2 separate regions of the Homo sapiens genome follow, and region 2 is linked to region 1. A link means that fine-mapping ties the variant in region 1 to the expression of a gene that starts in the linked region. Tissue or cell type: lung. Region 1 holds a variant in brackets; the other region holds the start of a gene. All regions are shown on one strand. Distances are from middle to middle.

Evidence for each region. PIP is the estimated chance that this variant, and not a neighbour inherited with it, causes the effect.
Region 2: XPC starts here. The variant in region 1 is fine-mapped to the expression of XPC in lung (TOPMed, PIP 0.94). The same link has a PIP of 0.9 or more in sun-exposed skin and whole blood.

The regions. Positions count from the first base shown.
Region 1 is chr3:14,199,163-14,202,006 of GRCh38, forward strand. LSM3 (LSM3 homolog, U6 small nuclear RNA and mRNA degradation associated) reads left to right here. Exons shown (of 4, transcript NM_014463.3): 4 at 1-1,960. Among named protein-coding and RNA genes, the nearest start is that of LSM3, 22 kb to the left of the region's middle. The variant T/C (reference allele first, on the strand shown) is at 1,486.
Region 2 is chr3:14,177,422-14,180,069 of GRCh38, forward strand. It overlaps XPC (XPC complex subunit, DNA damage recognition and repair factor), which reads right to left and starts at 1,180. Exons shown (of 16, transcript NM_004628.5): 1 at 1,045-1,180. The coding sequence starts at 1,147. LSM3 (LSM3 homolog, U6 small nuclear RNA and mRNA degradation associated) reads left to right here and starts at 1,396. Exons shown (of 4, transcript NM_014463.3): 1 at 1,396-1,460. The coding sequence starts at 1,440. RefSeq lists a silencer at 820-939 and enhancers at 990-1,339, 1,440-1,489.

The DNA of each region.
Region 1 (2,844 bases):
TGGATCATTGGCCATTAATGATGAGGGGTCTCAAACAACATGTCTCAGTGACACAGTAAAGCAGAAATTGGCTGAAAGCAAAGCTGTTTTTATTTCTAGCTTCAGTCAGCACATAATGCTTAAAACCTAAAGAGGAAAGTAAAAGCGTGTTACAATCTCTCAAACTTTATCAAGACAGGGCTTAGAACCTGACATCCTCCGCTATGGTCATTCCATTTTGAAATGTAGAAAATCCAACTTGTGGATGGTTTGTCTGTAAATGAGCTGAATGTGTGTGCGTGTTCATTATCAAGCACGATATGCTCACAAATGCACAGTACTTTAAGCCTTGTGCAAGAAAGATGCTTTCAGTAAACATATTTAAAAGGTTTTATTTTCCTTACTAATGGTACATGCCCCTGCAAGTTCATGGAGAAGAGAAAAACAAGTGTGGGTGAGCTGATGGAGGCTTCATCTTAGGTGAGGAGGCAGGAGAGACACCCTCCCTTCACTTGTGCCATCCCCACGCTTTGTCCTTAAGCTGTAGTGGTCCCAGGAGATAACCTGTTTACAGCAGCCCATTCAGTATTGAAAAATGAACTCCCTCCTGCAGAATGTTAGAAGAAACAACCTCAAAGACCTCAGGCCGCCTGTGGTCATTAGTATGTGGCAGCAAGATTGAACCTGCCTGCCTCCTACCTGTGTGAGCCTGTGGTGTGGGTGTGGTACCAAGGCCCTGGCTCTGGGCAGTCTGTTGGCTCCTGGTGTTCACTAAGGCGTGGGGTGACAGGCCATCTGGCCTCGCTCTGCCAGTCTGCAGTTCTCCCCAGCACTGCATTCATTTTTAGTGGTTTCTGATAGTCACACTGAATTCCTGGACACTTTCTTCTCTTCATTCTTAGTTATCTTTCTCCTTTTTCTCCTGGAACTGATAGTTTACACTAAAACTTTTGGCTGTGAGGACTTGATTATACACATTTCTAAAACCCATGAACCTTAATATCTGACACTGTTACTCTCATATGCACACACAACTAAAACATACCAACCTACTTCATTTCCTAGCTGCTAAGATACAAGGGGAGGGACAATAAAAGGTTAACTGCAGAATAGCCACCTATGTGTCAGGAAATGGAGGGAGGGGAGGCAATGTGTGAGTCCTTTTGGAGCTGGGACTCAATCCACAACAGAGACAGCTCAAGCAGGGCCCTGCCATGGTCCACACTGAGGTTTCCTCTGCAGTGGTGCTGTCCACTGAGGGGTTATGGTGTGAGGGCCCCTGGGAGCCACGCCTTGGACTTCTGAGTCTGCAGAGCACTCGGCTCCAGCCAGCTGGATGGCAGGTGGTCAGTGGAGCTGGTGACTGGTGGTTTCTGCAATGAGGTGTCAGATTAGCCTAAGGGAAGCCTCTTCAGCAAGTATCATGCCTGGATCCCGGTCTTGGTTGTTTTATGAGAGGCCGATATGAATTGCCATTGCCTCCCACAAAGAAAAATGGACAAAATA[T/C]GGGACCACATCTTTGAGATGAAATGTGCCCAAAATGAAAAGTAACTTGAGTATCCCAAGTTAAACTTAATCATTAGCTGCAAATGGACGATTTTCAAATTTCAAATAGTGATTTTTGAAGATTTGCCCAAACTAGAGTACTATCCCTCTTCACACTAAGAGGCAGAAAGTGGTTTCACACACCCTTTTATTTAATCAGCTAAAGTGGGTGCGGTGACACACACCTGTAAACTCAACCACTAAGGAGACTGAGGCGGGAGGATTACTTGAGCCCAGGAGTTCGAGATCAGCCTGAGCAACATAACAAGACCCTGTCTCAAATAATACTTAGCTATTACCCATATTGCTTTTAGCCTGCTGCCAGGAGGGGAGAAATGTTATTGTTTGAACAGATGTCAGATGTGAGTAATGCTCAGCTGTGTTCAATGTAGAAAATTAATAAAAGTTCCAGGAGTCATCCTGGCTAGATCAAGAAGCACAGTTGATGTTTCTCTGTCACTCAGCTCTGCTGAACTACATGGATTTCATTCGTGGGCAAGCTCTTCCCTGTAGCAGATGCAGACTTCCAGCCTACCTGCCCTCCAGCTAAAGTGGTCTCATCCTCCTTGCTTGGTCCCTGTGCCCATCTGTGGGCTGGTTTTTACGGCCATGAGAATGTGGGGCTCTGATTGGCCAGGCCTCAGTCACACGCCCATTTCTGGAACTAAGAGCAAGGTTATCCCCACCTGAGCTGTATGGTCTAAGTGCAGAAGGAGGGGTCGTTCTCTGAAGGAAACCAGAGGAAAGGGGAAATGGAGCTGGACACAATGCCTATTACACAGGAAAACTTTTAGTCTGCCCCAACTTATAGAAAAATCCCTTTGGTACTTTCCTATTAGTAACAAATTTCTTGGAACACACCTCAGACTGACACTATGACTTTAAGCTATTGCTCTGGAATCCAGGAGGTTCTGGAGCAACCTGTGTGGGGATCAGTATGGGTGGAGCTCAGATTTGTTGGCTGACTGGGCCTGATGGTAGCCCGAGTCCTCTTGAGGGGTCTAGGTAGGAGATCTGCAACACAAGAGGGCTGTTAAGCTGGGGGTAGGTATCAGGGGGTCCTCAGAGCTTCTGGGGAGGGCAGGGTAGTTGAACAGAGTGGACTGAAGAACACTAAGCCCCATGAGACAAATTGCTGCTTACAGGCAGAGACCATATTCACAACCCCTGGCAGAGGGCCTGGCCAAGAATTTGTCTTCAATAAATGTTAAATGAATATTTAAATGACAAGAAGACTAGTGCAACAGGACTTTGTGATCAGCACTGTGGATGGAAGGTTCAAATGGGAGTTTGAAAGAAGGTGAACTTTGCACATTGTTT
Region 2 (2,648 bases), 22 kb before region 1:
TTTTGAAGAAATAGAAAAAATCAGCCCTGGTAAAAGCCATGGGGGGTTCACTCTAGGCAGAAGGAACATCAAAGGAAAAGACTCAAGGAATAACTTGGCATATTTGAGGAAGAGAAAGGAGGCCAATAAGGAGGGTATCTGGCAAGGAAACAAGTGGTAAGAGAAACAGGAGAGGTAGCAAGAGCCAAAACATGTAGTATCTTGTAGGCCAGGATAAAACAACTGGATTTTAAGCTAAGAGCAATGGAAAACCAAGGGGAGTTTAAAGCAGGAGCAGGGCATGATTTTTTTTTTTTTTAAGATTATTTGGGTTGCTGGATGCAGAGCTGGGAGGCCAGTAAAGAGGAAACTGCAGTCACTCAACTGAAAGGTGATGATGACTTGGACAGGGGCTGTGGTCATGGAAATGAAGAGAAGTGGACAAATTTGAAATACACTCTTGAGGCTGAACTGACTGGACTTGCTGACGGACTGGATGTGTGGACATAAGAAAAAGGTGGGCTTTGCTTTATAACAAGTATTGAGACTGGAAAAACGGAGGAAAGCATAGATTTAAAGAGGAAAACCATGAGTTCTGCATTGCCCATGACAAATGTAAGAAGCCTATCAAATATCCATGAGGGGAAGTCAGGTGGGATCCCACTGTGGAACTCTGGGTGAGACTCAGCTGAAGTTATCATTCGGGAGTCAGCACACTGCATCACTCTACGTCCTGGTCCGTCCGTCTGTCTTCCTGGGACACAAATAACTGCCTTCTCCGAGTTCAACCCTGAACATCTGTATCCTCTGGACAACGGGGAGCGGGAAAAAAGCTACGCAGGAGCTTGGATCGGGCGAAGCTCGCGGGAAACCGCTCTGGGTGCGCAGGACAAAGACGCGGGGACAGCGGGGAGGGCCGGCCGCAGCCTGCCGGGCTGCCCCCACGGCGCGGAACGCGCGCAGCAACCTCCACCAGGCCTCCGCGTCTGGACTCCCGCCCTGCCTCTGGGCCTCCTCCGCCCACCGGCGGCGTCTCCCGCGAAGCCCGCTGGGCCTCGCTCTCACCCTCCTCCTCCTCCTCACGCCGGGCCTTGCTCTTGGCCTTGGATTTCTGGCTGCGCAGTTCGCGTCCCCGCGGCTCCCCGCCGGCCGCGCGTTTCCGAGCCATGTTGCTTGTCTGGGCAAATTCCACTTCGCGAGTGACGCACCCGGCCGCGATGCGCTAGAACGCCGGCCCCGCCCCGAGGCGGTGCGCTTGGCCACGCCCCTTCGTTGGAGGCCTAGTCACGCCCCTAAAGGAAGCTCCACCCCATACCCGTGGCCACTAAAAAACTGCGGGAAGCAGGAAAGAGCACAACAGGTTTCTCTCTATTTCCGGTGTATTGTATCCTCACGTTTCCGGAGATTGACGTTGCTCTTGTGTTCTCGCGAGAGGCGGGAAAGGGCGCAGGGTTTGAAACATGGCGGACGACGTAGACCAGGTAAGTGTATTTTAAGGAGGTCGCTCGAAGGAGCTTCTTGTACTAGGCTGCTTTTTCCAGACTCAGGAAAAATGGCCAGTCGTGCCTCCTCTCTCCAAGTCACCATGGCCTAATCCACCCTGTCCTTTCCGTAACCCCCCCTCCGAATTTTGCCGTAGGCCCTGAGACCTTTTCCTGTTAGAAGCCCACCTGATGACTATTCTCACACTCTTCGCTTCATTTTTTTAAATCTGTAGATTATTATCCTTAGCTACCTCATGGAGCTGTCAGGATTCCAATAGAAAGCCAGGTAATAAAGTTAGGAGTTGTTATCATTAGTGAGCGCAACAATTATTTATTCATTCAGCAGATAGAGTGAACATCAGCTTTGTATGGTTAGGCACTGTTCTAAGGGCCAGGGACACTGACATCGACATATAAGAGATCCTTGCCATTACTTGGAGCTTATATTTGCGAGGAGAACAGATAAAAGTAAATATAAATATGTAAGACTTCCAGGAACTGTGATGTGCTGTGAAGGAAACAAGGAACTGGTATGCAGAATAACAGATGGTCCTAGAAGCTTTTTCACCTGGTCTTTTTCTTCCTCAAATATCTTTGGAGATCATGCCACAACTTAAACTTTCTACTGAAATCTGACCTCCTCAGAGAGGACTTCTGCCCAAATAGCACTCCCGCTACTCTGGTTACCCTGCCTCATTTTTCTTCATAGAGAGTTATTTTTTCATATTAAATGTATGCATCTTTGTTTAATGTGAATCTCTCCCCACTAGAATGTAAATGCCATAAGAGCAGGGATTTTGTTTTGTTCATTCTTTTGTCTTTGGGGTTTAGAACAGTGCTGGAAACACTCAAAAAATATTTGAGTGAATGAGTTAGATGATCAGAGGAAGCCTCTTTGAGAAGCCAATATTTAAAGCTACAGGATGAAAAGAGCAGACAGTGGGCATCCCAGACAGAGGCTTAGGTAGCAGTAGGGCTTTTTCATGTGCATATTCTTACAGTATTATAATTATTTGTATGCCTCTCCACAGTAGAATGAGCTCCTTGAGGGTGGGGATTGTGACTTCTCTATCATTGTAATCTAACAGTTGGTTATCTGATCCTTTAACAAACACTTGTTGAACTGAGGGACATAGGGACCAGTTGAGTTAGGTTATTTTTTTCTCTCATCAGGCCTTTTGAATC